Linked DNA regions of Homo sapiens: all the other regions are reported to be linked to region 4. The links are microRNA targets in miRTarBase. Many come from high-throughput screens and were not tested one by one. Region 4 holds a microRNA gene; each other region holds the end of a gene's coding sequence.

What was found. Region 4 holds the annotated microRNA hsa-miR-196a-3p (CGGCAACAAGAAACUGCCUGAG, at 1,650-1,671, opposite strand). A microRNA usually pairs through its seed, bases 2 to 8, with sites in the 3' UTR of a target mRNA and lowers its output. Matches are read on the target gene's strand: a 7mer-m8 pairs with bases 2 to 8, a 7mer-A1 pairs with bases 2 to 7 and ends in A, and an 8mer does both.
Region 1: miRTarBase lists CYP4F3 as a target of hsa-miR-196a-3p. Seed matches in the 3' UTR shown: 7mer-m8 at 1,591-1,597.
Region 2: the mRNA of GK5 is a reported target of hsa-miR-196a-3p. Seed matches in the 3' UTR shown: 7mer-m8 at 1,056-1,062 and 7mer-m8 at 222-228.
Region 3: miRTarBase lists C1orf35 as a target of hsa-miR-196a-3p. The part of its 3' UTR that is shown has no 7-base or 8-base seed match.

The regions. Positions count from the first base shown.
Region 1 is chr19:15,659,162-15,662,281 of GRCh38, forward strand. It overlaps CYP4F3 (cytochrome P450 family 4 subfamily F member 3), which reads left to right. Exons shown (of 13, transcript NM_000896.3): 13 at 59-3,120. The coding sequence ends at 224. Among named protein-coding and RNA genes, the nearest start is that of CYP4F12, 12 kb to the right of the region's middle.
Region 2 is chr3:142,162,751-142,165,854 of GRCh38, forward strand. It overlaps GK5 (glycerol kinase 5), which reads right to left. Exons shown (of 16, transcript NM_001039547.3): 16 at 1-3,020. The coding sequence ends at 2,872. Among named protein-coding and RNA genes, the nearest start is that of TFDP2, 15 kb to the left of the region's middle. RefSeq lists an enhancer at 1,539-2,274.
Region 3 is chr1:228,098,675-228,101,778 of GRCh38, forward strand. C1orf35 (chromosome 1 open reading frame 35) reads right to left here. Exons shown (of 8, transcript NM_024319.4): 7 at 2,665-2,799; 8 at 2,057-2,580. The coding sequence ends at 2,457. ARF1 (ARF GTPase 1) reads left to right here. Exons shown (of 5, transcript NM_001658.4): 5 at 1-538. Among named protein-coding and RNA genes, the nearest start is that of MIR3620, 3.0 kb to the left of the region's middle. RefSeq lists enhancers at 1,347-1,586, 2,697-3,104.
Region 4 is chr12:53,990,350-53,993,469 of GRCh38, reverse strand. MIR196A2 (microRNA 196a-2) reads right to left here and starts at 1,732; the gene lies at 1,623-1,732.

The DNA of each region.
Region 1 (3,120 bases), not on the chromosome of region 4:
TGATGGGGCCAGGATGGGGCACCTGGGTGCAGTCAGAGTTTCCACCTCCCTCCCCAAGGAACTGCATCGGGCAGGCGTTCGCGATGGCGGAGATGAAGGTGGTCCTGGGGCTCACGCTGCTGCGCTTCCGCGTCCTGCCTGACCACACCGAGCCCCGCAGGAAGCCGGAGCTGGTCCTGCGCGCAGAGGGCGGACTTTGGCTGCGGGTGGAGCCCCTGAGCTGAGTTCTGCAGAGACCCACTCTGACCCCACTAAAATGACCCCTGATTCATCAAAAGTGAGGCCTAGAATTACCCTAAGACCCTGTTCCACAGTCCTGTATTCCATCCTAGATATCTACTCAAAATAATTGAGACAAGTGTTCAAACAGAAAGACGCTTGTGCGTGAATGTTCATGGCAGCCCTATTCACAGTAGCCAAACGATGAAAACAACCCCAAGCTATATATTACCAGATGAAAGGATAAACAAAATATGGTCCATCCATACAATGGAGTATTACACAGCCATAAAAAGGAATGAAGCAGTGATCCCCACTACACTGTGGATGAACCTTGAATGCATGATACTGAATGAAAGACATCAGATGCAAAAGGTCACATAGTGTACTGTCCTTTTATATGAAATTTCCAGAACAGGCCAATCTGAAGAGATGTATAGTGGATTGGTGGCTTTCAGCAGCTGTGGGGAGGTGGGACTGAGGAGCGACTGCTAATCAGGATGGGGTTTCCTCCTGGGATGGTGAAAATGTTCCGGACCTAGATAGTGATGAAGGTAGCACGACACTGTGAGTGCACTAAATGCTATTGAATTGGACACTTTAGAATGGTTGAAATAGTGATTTTTATGTGAATTCTACCTAAACATGCTATTACAGCTCATATATACTTTTTCCATCTGGATTCTTCACAAAAGAATATGTTGTGAGCATCTTTCCATGATATTAAATCATCTTAGGAAACATTATTTTGTGTTCTTCAAAATGTGCATGTTAAGTATTCAAATCAGTCTTAAATTTTTAAAAATATGTAATTTTAGAAAATAATTTAAAAGGTTTTGTTTCAGTTTGTAAGATTTCTTTTCTGGCACTTTAATGGCTTGAGGTATCATTATCAGTTACAAATTGAGTTATTCTTCATCAAATGACTTTTGGAGTAGAGATTTTATTTTTATAGCAATAGATGCACAGATATTCCTGTAAGATACAGGTGTGGTTAGACACTTTTCTAGAACAGGCATGCCCTGCAAACTCCACAGACACTGACTGTTTTTGTCCTATTAAGAAGTAGACCACTGAGAAGGGAGAAGGTGACATTTTAGCTTTCCCAGGTAAAAGTGGTTTTCATCCTCACACCAATTTTATGGACTGGACGTTAACTCTCTTGCTCAAGGTCACTCTGAGTGGAAGAGTGGGGATAAATCTGGTTCGTTTGGCATCAGAGGCCATGACTTTTCCTACCACAGAAGTAATTTTCAAAGTAAGTCTCTGCCCTAGGCACATCAGATCACCTGGGGACCACTCCAGAGTGAGTAGACAAGACTTTGACAGGGGTGCCTAATTTTTTTTTTTTTTTGAGATGGAGTCTCGCTCTGTTGCCCAGGCTGGAGTGCAGTGGCATGATCTCAGTTCACTGCAACCTCCGCCTCCTGCGTTCAAGTGATTGTCCTGTCTCAGCCTCCCAAGTAGCTGGGATTACAGGCACCCACCACCACATCCAGCTAATTGTTGTATTTTTAATAGAGGCGGGGTTTCGCCATGTTGCACTGGCTGGTGTTGAACTCCTAACCTCAGGTGATCCACCCGCCTCGGCCTCCCAAAGTGCTGGGATTACAGGCCCGGTCCAGTTTGATAGTTTGTTATCATGTTATACGTACACTTAGAATAATGATCCAGCCATCTCATTCTAACAGCAATGAGAACTTAGGCTCCCCTCTCTACTAAAATACAAAAGTTAGCTGGTCATGGTGGTGCGGGCCTGTAATCCCAGCTACTCGGGAGGCTGATGCGGGAGAATCACTTGAAACCCACAGGCGGAGGTTGCAGTGAGCTGAGGTGGTGCCACTACGCTCCAGCCTGGGGGAGGGGGACATAGCGAGACTCGGTCTCAAAAACAAAACAAAACAAAACAAAACAAAACAAAAACAAAACAAAACAAAACAAAACACTGCCAAACTGTTTCCAAAGCATCTGCATCGTGTTTAATTTCCATAAGTAACGTATGAGAATTCTAGGTCCTCCAAATAATTAGCAGTCCTTCGTAGTGTCAGTTTTTGTTTCAGCCTTCCTTATGGGTATGCTGTGGCATATCCCTGAGATTTTAATTCGCATTTTCCAGTGACTAAGGGTGTTGAACCACTCGTGCCTTCCTGTGCCTATTTGACACTCCTATATTTTCTTTGGTGAAGTGTCTGTTCAATCATCTGCTCATTAAATTTTCCTTCGGTTGTTTGCCTTCTTATTGTTGGATTTTGAGAGTTCTATGTACAAGTCCTTTGTCAGTCGTGTGATTTGCAAGTCTTCTTCCTAGTCTCTGAAGTTTCTTTCTTTCATAGAGCAAACGTTTTAAATTTTTATGAAGTAAGACTTCTCAGTTTTATTTTTGGTGAATTATGTTTATACTGCCATATATAGGAACTCTTTGCTTAACTGGAGGTCATGGAGATTTTCTCCTACATTTTCTTTTAAAAGTTTTATAGTTTCAGAGTTTACATGTAATTCCATAATCTCCATTTAGTTAAATTTTGTATGGGGTGTGAACTGTGGTTTGACTGTTTTCTTGTATATGGATATCCAATTGTTTCACACAATTTTTTTGAAAAGAATATCCTTGGCAGGGCACGGTAGCTCACACCTGTAATCCCAGCACTTTAGGAGGTCAAGGTGGGCAGATCATGAGGTCAGGAGTTTGAGACCAGCCTGGCCAATATGGTGAAACCACGTCTCTATTAAAAATAGAAAAATTAGCCAGGCGTGGTGGTGTGTGCCTGTATTCACAGCTGCTTGGATGGCTGAGGCAGGAGAATCGCTTGAACCCAGGAGTCAGAGGTTTCAGTGAGCCGAGATTGTGCCACTGCACTCCAGCCTGGGTGAAAGAGCTAGATTCTCTCTCTCAAAAAAAAA
Region 2 (3,104 bases), not on the chromosome of region 4:
ACTTTGGGAGGCCGAGGTGGGTGGGTCACAAGGTCAGGAGTTTGAGACCAGCCTGGCCAACATGGTAAAACCCTGTCTCTACTAAAAATACAAAAATCAGCTGGGCGTAGTGACGTATACCTGAAATCCCAGCTACTTGGGAGGCTGAGGCAGGAGGACTGCTTGAGCCCAGGAGAGGGAGGTTGCAGTGAGCCGAGATCATGCCACTGCACTCCAGCCTGGGCAACAGAGCATGACAATGTCTCAAAAAAAAAAAAAAAAAAGAAAGGACAATTTTGTTGCTCAATTGATCTTATCAACTGTTTCTGCAACCACAAAAGCAAATGTGGTCATGTTTCTGATTTTAGTTAAGTCCAAAAATATTTATTAAAGTCTTATCACTAAAAATGGCCACAAATATTAAAAATAAAATATTAGTTTTTAGATTCACAGAAGAAAAAAATAGCCACTGACACTTGAGGAGATGCTCAATTCCGATGAGGGACATTCAAAGTTACTTTCCAACATTATCTGAAAAGTATTGATCCTTTTTTTTTTTTTTTGAGACGCAGTGTCGCTCTGTTGCCCAGGCTACAGTGCAGTGGCATGATCTTGGCTCACTGCAACTTCCACCCCCCAGATTCAAGCAATTCTCCTGCCTCAGCCTCCCGAGTAGCTGGGATTACAGGCTTGCACCACCACATCCAGCTAATTTTTGTATTTTTAGTGGAGACAGGGTTTCACCGTGTTTGACCAGGTTGGACTCCTGACCTCAAATGATCCGCCCACTTCAGCCTGCCAAAGTGCTGGGATTACAGGCATGAGCCACTGCACACAGCCCAAAGTATTTATCCTTTATTTTGTGGTTATATGTTGGGAAAGAAGAACGTGGAAAAGAAGTGAACTAACAAATTTTCAGGTATTAATATTACAATTCAGTACATTCTGACAAAAAGAATTATTTCCTATGAAATTACACCCATTGGCTGGGTGCAGTGGTTCACGGCTGCAATCCCAGCACTTTGGGAGGCCAAGGTGGGAGGATCACTTGAGGCCAGGAATTAAAGACTACCCTGGGCAACACAGCAAGACCCTGTCTCTACAAAAAAAGAAAAAGAAAAAAAAATTACACCCACTGAGAAACAGAATGTGTAACAGTAAAACAACAGAGCAGCTTCCATGTGATTTTGATAGGAAAGCTTTAATTGGTGACTAAGCTTTGTAAAAAGGATGTAAACAGGGGAAAGAATGAAAAGAATAAGATTTATCTACATAATGAAGTTTGACTTTTTACAGTAAATAAAATACCTATTTATTAATATTTCCAAATATTAATTAGATTTAATAATACTATATATTTGTTACAATGCCTTCATCAGAAAATTTAATAATTAAGAAGATACTTGAAGTTCATTCAAATGGCACTTGCAGAAATGCAACTTAATTTCTAGTTCTATCATATCTGTCTCCAAAATGGACATATATGACAGCAAAAACAAAATTCTCTATAAATCTCTCCATTAGTTACATTACTATGTAACTAAAATAGCTAGTTCTATAATAAAAGGATTTTATGTGCCAAATCCTGACCAAGAGAGAAATAAAGTCATTATTGCTGCAAATCCAAATGGAACCTAACCCAAATGTAGGGAGGGGCAAATAAAGTGAAAACATGTTGGAAGGTGGGGTCAACTGCCTTAGGACAATTCTACATCCAGCTTGACACTACTCACGACTTACTCCTCCTCACTGTTTCTTCCAAGAAAGTCTAAGCATGTGAAACTGTCCTTGTTGCTCCCTGTGGATCTCTGGCTGAGTGGCTAAAGGGCAATCCTGAGCATAGACACACTCTCCTCCCTTCTATCAGCTGTCCCCCACACATACTCACAGGGATGAGTAGACTGAACAAACATCAAAAAGACGCAGGAACAAATAAAATACCCCAATAAAGGCAATTCTTAAGTGGTCAATAAATTAGGGCACTTCTTCAAATTAAGCTCTGTCAATTAGGCACTTAATAAAAACAAAAGACATTTATACAAGCATCTAAATAACAAAGAAAGATAAAGAACAAGAGAAAGACAAGATTTATGTTAACTACCAGCATGTTATACTTCAGCCAGAAGTTTTTGAAAGAAACGTTATTTGAGAAGGAAAATAAGTAGTATTTTTCTGTTTCTTAAAAATCAATATTCTTTCTAGTTCATTAACTAAAATTAGTTTTTCAGTGTTTTCAACATAGAAAGAATGCTCAGATTTTGGTTGAACAAGGAAAAATTAAGGCAGTGTCTTTAAGACCAGTAAAGGAAAGCATTAACTATCTCATAAGCTTATCTGAGAGGGACATATTAAGCTCATATTTGGATATAATATTAGGAAATTATGGCTTTAAACATAAAATATTAATGTTTCAAAATTCCACATTTTCTCAGTTATTCTTTCTTTTTAGCTATATGTACTTCAAATAGCCCACTTAAAGAATTAAAGAAATACGTTTCACATAATTTTGGAACAATATGTGCATGGTACTTGACCCAGAACTATTAGCTTGGATGGTAAATCATTATGTTCCTATGTACCACTGACCCAGTATAAAAAGGAAGAGGACCCATAACTGTCAAAATGTGGTTGGAAATGACTAATGTCCTTTGGAATTTGCTACAAAATAGAAGATATAAAGTTTTGAGGTATTGCTGCCTTACCATGGTTTAGGGGAAAAAAATAAGAGTTTTTTGTTCCGTTTTGTTTTTTTAAAAGCAATGCTTCTTAAGTTATGAAGCTTATTTAAAATTTTCTCCTCTTAGTCATTGTCATATGGGTTATCCCTGAGCTTCATCTCATCTGCACGTCACATAAACCAGCTACCTATGGTTTTGATCATTTCATTTAGTGTTATGTCTTGTTATACCAATTCATGGAGCGTTTCACTGCTTTGGCCCAGTTTTCCAGACTCATTTCATATTCTTGACATTTCTTCTGTGGCTTGAAAACCACTTCACTTTGTCTCAGTTTCTTTAGTTCCTCCTTGTCAGTCCAAAACCCTATAGATAAAAAAATTATCCTCAAATTTTAAGGCAAATCATGAGTCCAATAAAGTTTATCCAAAAACCTATACGAGTTGCTGG
Region 3 (3,104 bases), not on the chromosome of region 4:
CCAGGGGCCAGGCTGGGAGCCCACAGCCACCCCACTATGCCGCAGGCCGCCCTACCCACCTTCAGGCAGCCTATGGGACGCAGGGCCCCATCTGTCCCTCGGTCGCCGTGTGGCCAGAGTGGGTCCGTCGTCCCCAACACTCGTGCTCGCTCAGACACTTTGGCAGGATGTCTGGGGCCTCACCAGCAGGAGCGCGTGCAAGCCGGGCAGGCGGTCCACCTAGACCCACAGCCCCTCGGGAGCACCCCACCTCTGTGTGTGATGTAGCTTTCTCTCCCTCAGCCTGCAAGGGTCCGATTTGCCATCGAAAAAGACAACCTCTACTTTTTTCTTTTGTATTTTGATAAACACTGAAGCTGGAGCTGTTAAATTTATCTTGGGGAAACCTCAGAACTGGTCTATTTGGTGTCGTGGAACCTCTTACTGCTTTCAATACACGATTAGTAATCAACTGTTTTGTATACTTGTTTTCAGTTTTCATTTCGACAAACAAGCACTGTAATTATAGCTATTAGAATAAAATCTCTTAACTATTTCACCGGCTCTCCAGTGCTTCCACACAGGCATGCTGCCCCCAGGAGATGGTGGGTGCATCAGCCAGCTTTACTCTAGGAAGTACAGGTGACTGCCTAGGGCCGCCACCTCAGTCCACACCCTCCCCATGTTCCCTCCTGAGTGTGCAGGCACTTCTCTGTGTCTGTGTGAGAGGCTCTTCCAGCATGGTTGCCCACAGTGACCTTGATCTCGTTTGCAGTCCTGTCGGGCCCAGCCAATGAGACCTGGGCCATACAGGGCAGGGGTCAGCAGGCACCATGGAAGACCTCAGCCTCCGTCCTTCCCTCCATCGGCCTGCTGCTGAACCCCACTTTGTATAGCTGGCTATGGGGCAGGGCCACTGCTAGCATACATAGGGCTTTGTGCCAACCAGGGAATGGTCCCTGCCTGAGTGGGCACAGCCCCCACCTCTCCTCAAGATGCCATGCAGCAGGGGGCTGCCAGTCTGGGGGTACCTGTTTCTGGGATGGGGCCATCAGCAGGTCTAAGGTCTGCCTTCTGTTGGGCAGAGTCCCAAAAGAGAGGGCTGCCCTGGCTAGGTGGCCCAACCTTCATCCCCCTTGACAGCACCCAAGACAGCACAGTCTCTACTCCAGTAGCCACCCGAGGGTGAGGGCAGAGGTCAAAGCCACAAGCTACACCTTGGCCAGGGCCCTGAGGAAGGTCTGCATAACTTCCCTTGAAATCAGAAACAGGCCAGGTGAGGGAGCTCATGCCTCTGATCCCAACACTGCAACGCTGCATTGAACTGTGATGCAGCCCAGGTGCCATCTGTCTTTATGCCATGCAGCCTGGTGGCCGCACACATCCTGAACAGCCCTGATCCTTCTTAGGGTCAGGCAGAAGGGACACCCAGCCCACTGCCTCTGGAGAAGCGGAGCTGAGGGTTGGGGTAGCAGGCAGTTGGAGGAGCTCCCCAACCCCCACACCCAATTGAGGCTGTGCCTCCACAGACTGCAGTCTTTGACCTCACCTGTCGCAGGGATAGGGCTCCCTGCCCCAGGTTCCCACATTGCCAGCTGAGCACCTGCTTCCAGGGCCTCAGCCCTCCCTGGGTTTTGGTGGGGGCTCTGGGCACACATGGGAGGACTACATTCCCCCAGGACATTAAGAATCAGATGGGCACCGGGGCTCACACCTGTAATCCCAGCACTTTGGGAGGCCAAGGCGGGCGAATCACCTGAGGTCAGGAGTTCAAGACCAGCCTGGCCAACACGGTGAGACCTCGTCTCTACTAAGAAATAACAAAAATTAGCCTGGCGTAGTGGCAGCGCCTGTAATCCCAGCAACTCAGGTTGAGACAGGAAAATCGCTTGAACCCGCGAGGCGGAGGTTGCAGTGAACTGAGATCACACCATTGCACTCCGGCCTGGGCAACAAAAGTGAAACTCAAAAAAAAAAAAAATCACCAGGTCTCAGACTCCTGGGAGACAGACCCCAGCTCCGACGTTCCAGTGGGATCTCATTAACCCCTGATACTGACCTTCCAATTTGATATACCTTCCTTTTAAAATATATTTATTGAAATACAAAGAGTCAATATAAAGAAAAATAGAGGTCACCATACTTGGCCACAGTTAGACCGCTCATAGGCCCATGGCTGCTGCAACCATGGGCAGGACACAGAGGGAGTCCAGCCTCTACTGATAAATCTGGGCAGGTTCACCTTCGCAGGCCAAGCCAGGGGCCATCCCTGGTATGCGAAACCTGGAGGTTTTCCAGGAAGCCGGCTGCTCCAGAGCTAGCTGTCAAGTCTTTAGCCCCACAGGCTGGTGCCCAGAGCCACTTCCACAGGAGCAGCCTCGGGCTTCACCCACACCCAAGGAGCTTCCGAGGCAGGAGGCAAGCAAGGTGAAGGGAGGGTTCAGGGTCCCACAACAGCAGTGAGCAGGGTCCAGCCATCAGGCCTCAGAGCCTCTGTCATGCCACCTGCGAGACGGGCTCCTCCTGTCCCCACTGTGTCCCCGCTTCCTCCTCTTACAGCAGGGGGAGTTGGAGTCGGAGTCATGGTGGTGGTGCCTGGGCCTGGGGAGACCAATGGCAGTCAGTCACTCGGAAGGAGTCAACCAGGCCCCCACCCCCAAGAGGCAGATATGGACCAGGGCATACCTCTCAGGAGATGTGGGAGAGGAGGTGGCCTCAGCTGGCCGCCTGTGCTCTTTGTCTTTCTTCTTCTTCTCTTTCTTGTGTTTCCTCTTTTTCTTTTTCTTCTTCTCCTTCTTGCTTTTCCTGTGGCTCTCACAACTACAAGGAGGATACAAGGTGTGCCTCAGACCCTAGTCTTGCAAGCCAAGAGAGTGAACACAAGCAGGCCCCATCCAGATGAAGCCACCACCCACAAGTGCGTCTTTAAATCAGTTAAATCAAACTACAAATTCCACTCCTCAGTTACGTAGTCACGTGGCCAGTGGCTACGTGGGTTAGAAACAGATGCAATATCCCCATCTCCACAGCACGCCCCTGCCCCACCCCAGCCGTGCCCTTGGCAGGTTGACACCTTCCTACCTGCACCCACCAGGCCACTCTTAGGGTCAGGCCCAGGCTCACCA
Region 4 (3,120 bases):
CCTGAGCACCCAGTCCCTGCCTGGGACACGCTTTGCCCCAACTGACTGTGTGCCTGGGGCAGCCTGAAGACTCAAAGGCTGCTAGGAGCTCCCAAACTAGGGGAATCCCTTGCCTGCTTCCCACCAGCTGGCCTGACTCTCTGGAAACTTCCCCATTTCCCTGGGAGCCATAGAGAGGTTTGAATACTTCTCTCCAAGAGAAGAAATTTTTTCTCTCACAAAGGGATGGGGGACAGACAGACCAACAATCCAGCTAGGGAGACAGGAAATTCTATTCCCATTTTCTCCTCCAGCTTCCTTGGGAGTCAAAACAAATATGTTCGCATAAGAGAGGGGAAAAATAAATGTGTATGCGTATAAATACATACAGGGTATTTAAGAGAGCCTAGGGGAGACAGAAACAGAGCCCTACACTCATACAAGGTCACATATATCCCTCCCAGCAGATGACTGTGAGAATATAGAACTCTGTATATATTTTGTTACAGGGACATAATTTTGTTTCCCTGTCTAGACGTTTATAATGTTTTAATAATCATAATAATTTCAAAGTAAGAGAACCAAGAACCTGACCTTCTTTTGGCTTCTCTTCCCCAGTATCTCTGAGAACAGGGGTGTATCTCCTCAGTCTCCATAACCCCTCCCCCATTTATTCCCCCCCCCCCAACTCCGCCCGCAGGCAGGCAAAGAAACCTCTTTTGAGAACTTTCTCTGTAGCAACCAGGGCCAGAATTGAAGAACCAAGGGGGAAAGGATGAGAGGAAGCTTTGCAAAGTTTCACACTGCTCAGATTTTCCTCTACCCCATTCTCCTCCCCTCCTCCCCCTGGCATCAGCCAACAACCTTTCCACCAACATAGCAATGGTGGGCACGGGCAGCCTCTGTTCACCCAGATGTTTCCACATAGTGCAAAGACAGGCAGCTGCCTGACAGTCACAGCCACAGAAACTGAGGCCTTCAGGCCACAGACGACTAAACAGAGACCAGAGTCAGGTTTTTGCCCTGATGTTTCCCAGTTGCGTGCGTGTGCGTGTGTGAGGGGTTCTACTTGGACTTTGATGGCTTTCCTCTAACCTACCAACACCCCAAACATGTCCTTCCCCTGGAGATGGAGCTATAGAAGGGGAAGGGGAAAGGGCTGGGCTGGCGCTCAGAGTTCCCCAACTCTTGGAACCTCCAGGTACCCCACTTTTCTAAGGAGAATCTTGAGCCCCAGTCGACTGGAGGTGGTAGGTGGGAGAGGCTAACCATTCCAGAGACCGTCTTCTCTTTCTGTGCTCCTCTTTCTGCTAATAATTCTGCCCCACCCTGCTGCCCAACTGAGCTGGCCCGCCAGGCCACCTCTTACTCAAACTCCTGAATTTCCTTGGAATTGGCTGGACCCTCTTTGTCTGTCTCCATCAGCTGGGCCCAGGAGACAATAGCTGCAGGAAAGACTCCTCTCCCTTAATCACAGGGATTGGGATAGGTTGAGAGGACGGCATAAAGCAGGGTTCTCCAGACTTGTTCTGCAACCCCACTCACAGCTTGTCCTCCTTGGTCTGCACCCACTTTGCCCTATCTGGGAGGGGGCAGTGGGGCAGTCCCACTGGGGAGGGTAGGAGTGGGAGAGGTGGGTTGGGGCCCTCGACGAAAACCGACTGATGTAACTCAGGCAGTTTCTTGTTGCCGAGTTCAAAACTCAATCCCAACAACATGAAACTACCTAAGCCACAGATCAGCTGAGCGAGCAGGGCGGGAGATTCAGCTTTGCATCTATCTGGAGGAGAAGGGAAGGGGGTTGGGGAAGGAAGAAATTCAGCCCCGTCCCCCTTTCCGCCCCCACAACCTCCCTAAGGACTAGAGAGTAGACTTTGGGTTGCTGGGTGGGTAAGGGGTCTGACTGCCTTCATTAGTTTCTGGTCTAAGCAAATTGCTCAGGAAAAATCTGGTGAAATGGGACCACTGGCGGCCAAATACCTGCCCCACCCCCAGCACCGCAGTGGAGCTATTCCCCTGCATCTGGCCCTGGCCCTGGGGGAAGCTGGATCTTCCTTCCACTCTGGAGCTGGGTCCCCTGTCTTGTCCATCTGGCTCTCCTGCACTCTCCTGCTAGACTCCCTCTGATCCTCTCCCTCTCAGCTCGGTTTAGGCTTCTCAGCGAATGTGGGTAGCTGAATCATAGCCCTGTGCTCTGGAGCCACTTCCAATCAGGCCACTTGCCTGGCAAAACGTTACAGCCAGGGAGCACAGGGAACAAGAGGCTGGACGAGGCTCACATCCAAACCAGCGAAAAGCAGGAAAACCTAAGCTTCAAGCTTCAACCCTCTGTACTCCTCCTCCCCCACCAACAGACGACCAGACTGAGCAACACCTAGACCAGAGTGTCGACTTCGAGGAGACCCAAAGTGCCCGAAAAGATAAAGAAGCCAAAAACCATCAATTTATCCCTTTAACTGTGGAACCCCCATGGCAATGGGCCCGGGAGGGAAGGAGAGGGAGCTCCCAGTCGCTGCCCTCCGCTGCCAGCGGCCACTAGGAAAGCCTGGGTTCTCGGCAAGCACGGATGCCCTAAACACCTTCCTCCAGGCTCTGTCCGCTGCACGCCGGACACCTGGGGACACCGCTCATCCCCACTCCGCCGCCAAGAGAAGAACAAGAAACCGCTTCTCTTACCTTGTCGCTGCCTCCTCCTCCTGCTGCTCCTGGCGTTTCTGTTAGCTGCTGTCGAGGTTGGGGGGGCTGAGCTCCTCATGCCCCTCCAGCGGTTAAGTTTATTCCTTTCCTTGGATGGGTGGGGGGCTCTTGGGGTGACCCCCAGCAGCAGTGGGGTGCGCCCAGCCCAGCACCCCAGGCAATCAGATCCGTCTGCTCCTCAAGATTGCAGCTTGCTCTCTGCCTCTTTCCCTCCTCCAGTCACCTTTAAATGCATCTTTTACTGCAGCACCACATTATATTTGCAGATCATAAAATCCACCTCTCGCGCGCACCAAGACCGTCCTGACATTACTGTTTTATGACCTTGACTTATTGTGGTCACCTGGATAATATTTAAATCAACGTTATGGTCTCTCACTTACATTAAACCCGCCAAGAGACGTTCTAGAAAGGCTCTAGGAGATGAGTCAAACACAAAACACA